Homo sapiens: one gene and its partner. The protein of the gene in region 2 interacts with the protein of the main gene of each other region in a pairwise test. Each region holds a gene or a part of one and is shown on either strand. Other genes may lie near its edges.

Region 1 (3,752 bases), on a different chromosome or scaffold from region 2:
TCTTGCTTCATCCACAGCTTGCACCTGAAAGAAAACAGATCCTTGCTTTAGTTTTATGTGTTCTCAACTTTTATACCTCCAAGAGTCTCTAACAATTTTTAAGGTCACTAAAGCAAACATAAATTGAACAAAGCATTATAGAAGCACACGCTTTAAGGTAAAGGTAAGATTAATTGGCTAACGTCCTGTAAAAGTTAAACCCCTACGTTAAGAAGCTTGGTAATAATAAATATTTGGGAAGAATATTTTCTTGCTTCATTGTTAAGTTATTTGGTAGTGGAAAAAATGTGATAATTGTGGTAAAAATGATTGCTTGCACTGTACAAAATGACAGTGTCAAAACACAGCAATTACTGTTTCTAACAATCATAACTTGGTGAGGTGGCAGCAAATATTATTAAAAAGCTTTTAACTCTATTAGATTCTATGTACAATACCAAGAAGTATAATATCACTGCTCAGATTACATAATAGCAGAGATATATTAATAAATGGAACCTACAGCCATTTTAGAAAATGGCTGAAACAAAATGTCCTAGACTAGAGTAAAACCATGACAACGTATAAACACATCTCCACTGATAAAAAAATTTTCCACCTGACACAGCACTTTCAGCTTCCTGATATAGCTGTGTTTTTTTAAATATTAAAACTTCATACAAACCAATGCCAAAATTAACATAACTAACAGATTTTAACTTGAGATATCGGTTTCTTTTTTAGACTAGGAAATTTCACAAAAATTCATGTCAAAAAAAATTGATACATGCAGCAAAGGTTCTAAAAAGATGTGGAAACAGATGCTGGTGAGGCTGTGGAGAAGTAGGAACGCTTTTACACTGTTGGTAGGAGTGTAAATTAGTTCAACCATTGTGCAAGACAGTGTGGCGATTCCTCAAGGATCTAGAACCAGAAATACCATTTGACCCAGCAATCCCATTACTGGGTATATACCCAAAAGAATATAAATCATTCTACTATAAAGACACATGCACACATATGTTTACTGCAGCACTACTTACAATAGCAAAGACATGGAACCAACCCAAATGCCCATTAATAATAAGACTTGATAAAGAAAATGTGGTAAATATACACCATGGAATACTATACAGCCATAAAAAGGAATGAGATCAGGCTGGGCACAGTGGCTCACACCTGTAATCCTAGCACTGCGGGAGGCCGAGGCAGGAGGATCACTAGAGGTCAGGAGTTCGAAACCACCCCAGCCAACACGGTGAAACTCTGTCTCTACTAAAAGTACAAAAAAAAAATTAGCCAGGCATGGTGGTGGGTGCCTGTAATCCCAGTCACTTGGGAGGCTGAGGCAGGAGAATCCCTTGAGCCCGGGAGGCGGAGGTTGAAGTGAGCCAAGATTGCACCACTGCACTCCAGCCTGGGCAACAGAGCAAGACTCCACCTCAAAAAATAAAAAAAGTCATGTCCTTTGCAGGGACATGGATGAAGCTGGAAGCCATCATCCTTAGCAAACTAACACAGGAACAGAAAACCAAGCACCGCATATTCTCACTTATAGGTGGGAGTTGAAGAATGAGAACACATGGACACAGGGAGGGGAACAACACACACCAGGCCACTCGGGGTAGTGGGGCGAGGGGAAGGAGAGCATTAAGGTTAAATAGCTAATGCACGTGGGGCTTAAAACCTAGATGATGGGTTGATAGGTGCAGCAAACCAACATGGCACACATACCTATGTAACAAGCCTATACGTTCTGCACTTGTATCCCACAACTTGAAGTGAAATAAAAATTTTTTAAAATGTTGAAAATAAGAACATCAAAGCTGAGTCAAGTATCTCAGACTGGGGAAGTTTTTCACATATTTGAACTGTAACTCTTAGAGAACCGAGGATCAAACAATCACTTTACCATCACCAGGGTCCATAGTATAGCATTAGTTTAAGATGAATTTTATACTTTTACAAAACTTTGCAACTTTTAATTTCCAAAAGTATTTTGCACATGTCTTTTTATTTTCACAACCTGGAAGGCTACCAAAGCAAGGAATATTTTTGTTCCGATAGTTGAGAACATTAAGATACAAAACAATCAACAAACTTGCTCACTGCTACAGTGAATACCAAAGGTGACATCTGGACTAGTTTAAGACTCTTTCCAATATACTAGATATGTGACAGAATCAACTTGAGTATGTCTTAAAAGCACAGCTGCCTGGGTCTACTAATCACAGCCTCTAGGGGTGAGGACACATGCATCCACACTTTTTTTAAAGCTCTCTAAGCAATTCTTACATCCACTGAAGTCTGAGAACCAATGCAACAGATCACAGTACCAAGTGCAGGGTTGGAACCCTATCCTAGCTCTATCTCAGCCAGCCCACAGAAAGTCTTCTGAAATTAATTGGCCACGGTGCACTTGGCTCCTTTGTTAACAGTCATTGGTGCCAATGGTGGTGAAAATATAGTGTGGTTTTTAAAGCCTCTAATCATAGCATGCCCAAGAATCCAAAACATGGGGTGATTACTCAATAAAATCAAACTTTTTCTCAGCGGGTTATCATGATCACAGCACTTAATGGCAAATCAAAGATAATGAGGAGGGGGGGAACCCCAAAGAATTTCACAACCTGACACATCCATTTTAGTAAAGGAAATTACTGACAAAATTAGGAATTTGAAAAAAAGTACAATGAGCTAGGTCTTTATGTAATAAGATGGGAGGTTCTCCAAGACACACTGCTGAGTTAAAAAAAAAAATCAAGTTGCAGACCAACACATACATATAAGACCGTTTATGATATAGAGACACACACAAATCAGTATTTTGTCTATGAGTGAACAAAAAAGCATATACAAAGGTCTAGAACTGCACTGTCCAGTACAATAGTGACTAGCCACATAGGGAATTTGAATTTAAATTACTTTAAATTAAATTAAATTAGAAGTTCAGTTCTCAGTTGCACTAGCCACACTTCAAGTACTCAATAGCCCCCTGCTGCTAGAAGCCACTGGACTGGACAGCACAGATACAGGACATTTCCATCATCACAGAAAGCTCTATTGGACAGCACTGGTCTAGAAAGATATAAACTCCTAAGGGTAGTGGCCTGGCTGGGGAATGGGGGTTTAGGCAAAGTTGGGAGTAGGAGACAGAACAGGGATTGAAGAACTTCTGCCTTATCTGTCAATTCTGCTTAAATTTCCTTTTAATTTTTTTAAAAGCACTTGTCATTGCTGTATAATTTAAAAATCATTAAAAACTCAAAAGGCATATCTTTATTAAAGATATACATAAATACACAGGAAGCCTGAAAAAAAATGTAAATATCCCACTAGAAGCTCTGCATTAATGTGTATGGAGTATTAAAAACATCCCAAGGTTGGCTGCGAGCGGTGGCTCATGCCTGTAATCTCAGCACTTTGGGAGGCTGAGGCGGGTGGACCACAAGGTCAGGAGATCGAGATCATCCTGGCTAACATGGTGAAACCCCGTCTCTACTAAAAATACAAAAAATTAGCTGGGCGGGAGGCTGAGGCAAGAGAATGGCGTGAACCCAGGAGGCGGAGCTTGCAGTGAGCCAAGATCGTGCCACTGCACTCCAACCTGGGTGACAGAGCGAGACTCTGTCTCAAAAAAAAAAAAAAAAAAACCAAAAAACAAAAAACAAAAACAAACAAAAAAATCTGAAGGTTTTGAAAAGAAATGTAAACAAAAAAGCCAGGCATACCTGATCTAACCAAAGAGGTTAGTGTTTGAGGAAAGATACCCT
Region 2 (3,752 bases):
ACTTGCACATATACACGCGCACACACACACACTTAGGTAATCATGTGAGGTGAGGGATATGTTAAGCGCTTGGCTGTAGTAATGATTTCAGTATATACATGTATATTACAACATCACGCTGTATACCTCAAATATAGATAATTTTTTTTTTGAGACGGAGCCTCGCTTTGTTGGCCAGGCTGGAGTGCAGTGGCGCAATCTTGGCTCCCTGCAAGCTCCGCCTCCTGGGTTCAGGCCATTCTCCTGCCTCAGCTTCCCGAGTAGCTGGGACTACAGGCGCCTGCCACCACACCCGGCTAATTTTTTTTCTATTTTTAGTAGAGATGGGGTTTCACCGTGTTAGCCAGGATGGCCTTGATCTCCTGACCTTGTGATCCGCCTGCCTCGGCCTCCCAAACTGCTGGGATTACAGGCGTGAAAATATAGATAATTTTTTTAAAGGGCTGTCAGTCCACATCACTTCAGATAAATGCAGACTGTAAGAATGTTAAGTGGTACACAGTAGAAAAGACTTCTAGAGGCCTAGACACTGATAAATCTAGTCTTATACATTTACAAATAAGCAGAATACCCTTTAATTCTAGAGGCTTGGGGAGGACGAAAGGGACGACAGAACTTTGAAAAGCAGCTGTTTAACACTAACAATAAAGGGGAGAGAAGGGCAACGAGGGGGACATTAAAAAGACCGAGTTGGGGTGTGGGAGAAAAAGATGAGAGTGAAGAAGTAATTAAGCAGCATCAGTAGCTACTATTCTGACAATAATCCCCGTGTCAGATAAGGTGCTGTGGGCTCTCCTCCTTCTCCTTCCTCCCCTGTGGGCTCTCCTCCTTCTCCTTCCTCCCCTGTGGGCTCTCCTCCTTCTCCTTCCTCCCCTACTCTAACGGCCTGAGTGTCCTTTAGTGTCAGGTCCTAAGAGTGCCATTATGGAGAAGCCGAGAGACAAATGCCAAATGGGAGAAGAACAAACTATGAGAAGGATGTGGGCCAAGTGACCAGAGAGCCAGACCCCAGGAGTCTCCCAACGCTTCTACCCAGCCCACACCCCTGGTCCTGCTGACAGGCAGCTCCTGTCTATGACTGCCAGCCTTCAGCCGGGACCTGCACCCTGCTTTGGGCTTACAAGTGAGGTCCTTGCTGTTTAGAACAGACATTCAATTCTTGGCCCAATGTGCTTACAGAGGAGACAGGGTTCAGGAATTGTTAAAAAATAATGGGAGACTACCTTCTTATTTAATTTCAGATCAGACATAAATACCCTTAATTCCCAAATTATTTCCCATTCCACACATTTCTCTTCTGCCTCAGTATTTCTATTCATAGCCTAGTCAAACAGGAAGTTAAAACAGTGAATGCAGAGGTCTTAAACCAGCAGGATGAGCCACATCCCATCCACATACACGTTTCTGGCTCAAGATTTTAAAACAAACGTGTTAGCTGCTGAGATGTTAAAATCAGAAGGTGACAAATAACCAAGACTTCTCATCTCTCTGAAGATGTGGAGATCAGAACGTGGGCTCAGCTTCCCTGCAAATGCAGTGATCCACGGGCGACAGCAGGGGCCCTCAGCCTTCTGCAGCCTCCACCGCCCATTCTGCTTTTACTTTACCAACCCAGCGTTTGAATCTGTGACTTCACACAGATAAGTAAGACTGAACTAAAGTTAGAGTTAATGACCATCTACAATTGAATCCAGGTTTGCTACTAGTGAATAAGGGCAACTGCAAGCAGTTCTTTTGAATAAAATCTATTTTCAACTCAATGACCCAGAGTGGTATTGTGAGGTAAGAAATAGCCATCTGGTCTGCGTCCCTAGTTCCCGGCACAGAGCTCCTAAAACTCTTGTAACTTCCTGAATGTTAGGTGTGCAAGGTGTATCTTTTGTTCTGATATTTGGTCTCTGACCCTGGCTCCTGACACAGATCTCCTAACCCTTGGAATTTCCCGGGTGGTAGGAGCATCTTTTGTTCAAATGAGGTGACTCCTGGTGGGATGGGGGCTGGTCAACAGAAGGACCAAGCCAGGATTAGAAGCTTGGAACTTCCAGCTCCACCTCCCATTCTCTGGAAAGAAAAGTGGGGCCAGAGGTTGAGTTAATAATCAATCATGCCGGCCAGGCATGGTGGCTCACACCTGTAATCCCAGCACTTTGGGAGGCTGAGGCAGGTGGATCACCTGAGGTCAGGAGTTTGAGACCAGCCTGGCCAACATGGTGAAACCTTGCCTCTAATAAAAATACAAAAAATCAGCCGGGTGTGGCGGTGGGCGGTGGGCTCCTGTAATTCCAGCTACTCAGGAGGCTGAGGTGAGAGAATCACTTGAACCTGGGAGGCGGAGGTTGCAGTGAGCCGAGATTGTGCCACTGCACTCCAGCCTGGGCAACGAGAGCAAAACTCTGTCTCAAAGAATAATAATAACAATAATCGATCATGCCTATGTGATGAAACCGCCGTAAAAATCCTTGAGCTACAGGAAAAGAGATTCTGGGGTGCTGAACATGTAGGGGCACCTGGGGCAGGGGGGCATGGAAGCTCTGCGTCCCTTCCCCATGCCTCGCCCTATGCATCTCTTCATCTGGCTCTTTATTTGCATCCTGTAAATTGAGCTTTGTAATAAACTGACAGTAGTAAGTAAAGTGTTTCCCTGAGTTCTGTGAGCCGCTCCAGCAGATTAATTGAACCCAAGGTGGGAGTGGTGGGAACCCCCTTGATCTGACTCCAGGTAGACAGTGTCATGACTGTAGGACACTCAGCTGGTGTCTGCTGCACAGCTGCTTGGTGGGTGGGGCAATCCTCCCTTCCCATGCTGTGGTCACAAAACTGTTCTGTGTTGTGCTGAGTGTGGGAACAGCAAAAACAGTTCGGTCTTCCCTGTCTCTCCCACTCAGCCATGGGCGGGCAGGGTGGGACCTTGCACCCCTCTCCTCACCTGGTCCTTGGTAGGCCTGGGGGTGGCCGAAGGCAGTGTCCCAGTTGTTGGGAGTGTTTGTGTTTCTTTGGGCTCCAGCCCCCTCTGGCTGGGCCCCCCAGCCTTCTGAGCTTTCCCAGTTCCCAGATTTGGAGGCACTCCAGGCTGACCAGGGGTCATTGCCACTGCCAACCTATTGAGAGGGGTAAAAAGAAGGAGAATTTTTGTGACTTTTGGAAACCATGACTCAATTCAATAATGAACTGACACAATTGAATACAACAGGAGTACTAAAAACAATTAATAGAAATGTATTCAAAACAATTTTACATACATAATATTTTAATTTCCAAACATGTAGGAAAGCACAAAAGGTAGCATCAATCTAATTTTACTGATGTGAACACATTTTACCGTATTTGCTTAGGAACTTTGAAAACAGCAACAAAGAAACTATTAGATGCAGCTACAGCCCTCTCTTTCTTTCTCTCCAGAAGTAACCACTACTTTTCTGAACCTGTATCCATTCCTATGTGTGTTTTCATACTTCAGCTGCACATGTACACATTCACAAACAACTGCTTTATATTTTTAAAATTGACCTAAAGGATGTCATACTGTATGTATCTCTTTGCAAGTTTTCTTTTTCCCACTCAACATGAGGACCTATTTCTAACTGCTTTATAGCGATCTGTTGTATTTTTAAGTAGGCTTTTTAATTTGAAATGGAATACATGTATAATAAAAAAAATTCAAACAATAAAAGTATATGCAATTTGAGAAATACGCCTAACATCCTGAGATGCTAGTCATTCTAAGGAACTACTACTGTCAAAAGACACAAAAT

The links.
Region 1: the proteins of SNX9 (region 2) and OCRL interact in binary tests that used the Homo sapiens proteins (3 or more experiments, as listed by UniProt).

The regions. Positions count from the first base shown.
Region 1 is NC_000023.11:129,571,244-129,574,995, reverse strand, and holds part of OCRL (inositol polyphosphate 5-phosphatase OCRL), read right to left. Parts: intron 1-3,752. UniProt on the Homo sapiens protein: Catalyzes the hydrolysis of the 5-position phosphate of phosphatidylinositol 4,5-bisphosphate (PtdIns(4,5)P2) and phosphatidylinositol-3,4,5-bisphosphate (PtdIns(3,4,5)P3), with the greatest catalytic activity towards PtdIns(4,5)P2.
Region 2 is NC_000006.12:157,896,173-157,899,924, reverse strand, and holds part of SNX9 (sorting nexin-9), read right to left. Parts: intron 3,099-3,752; coding exon 2,927-3,098; intron 1-2,926. UniProt on the Homo sapiens protein: Involved in endocytosis and intracellular vesicle trafficking, both during interphase and at the end of mitosis. Required for efficient progress through mitosis and cytokinesis. Required for normal formation of the cleavage furrow at the end of mitosis.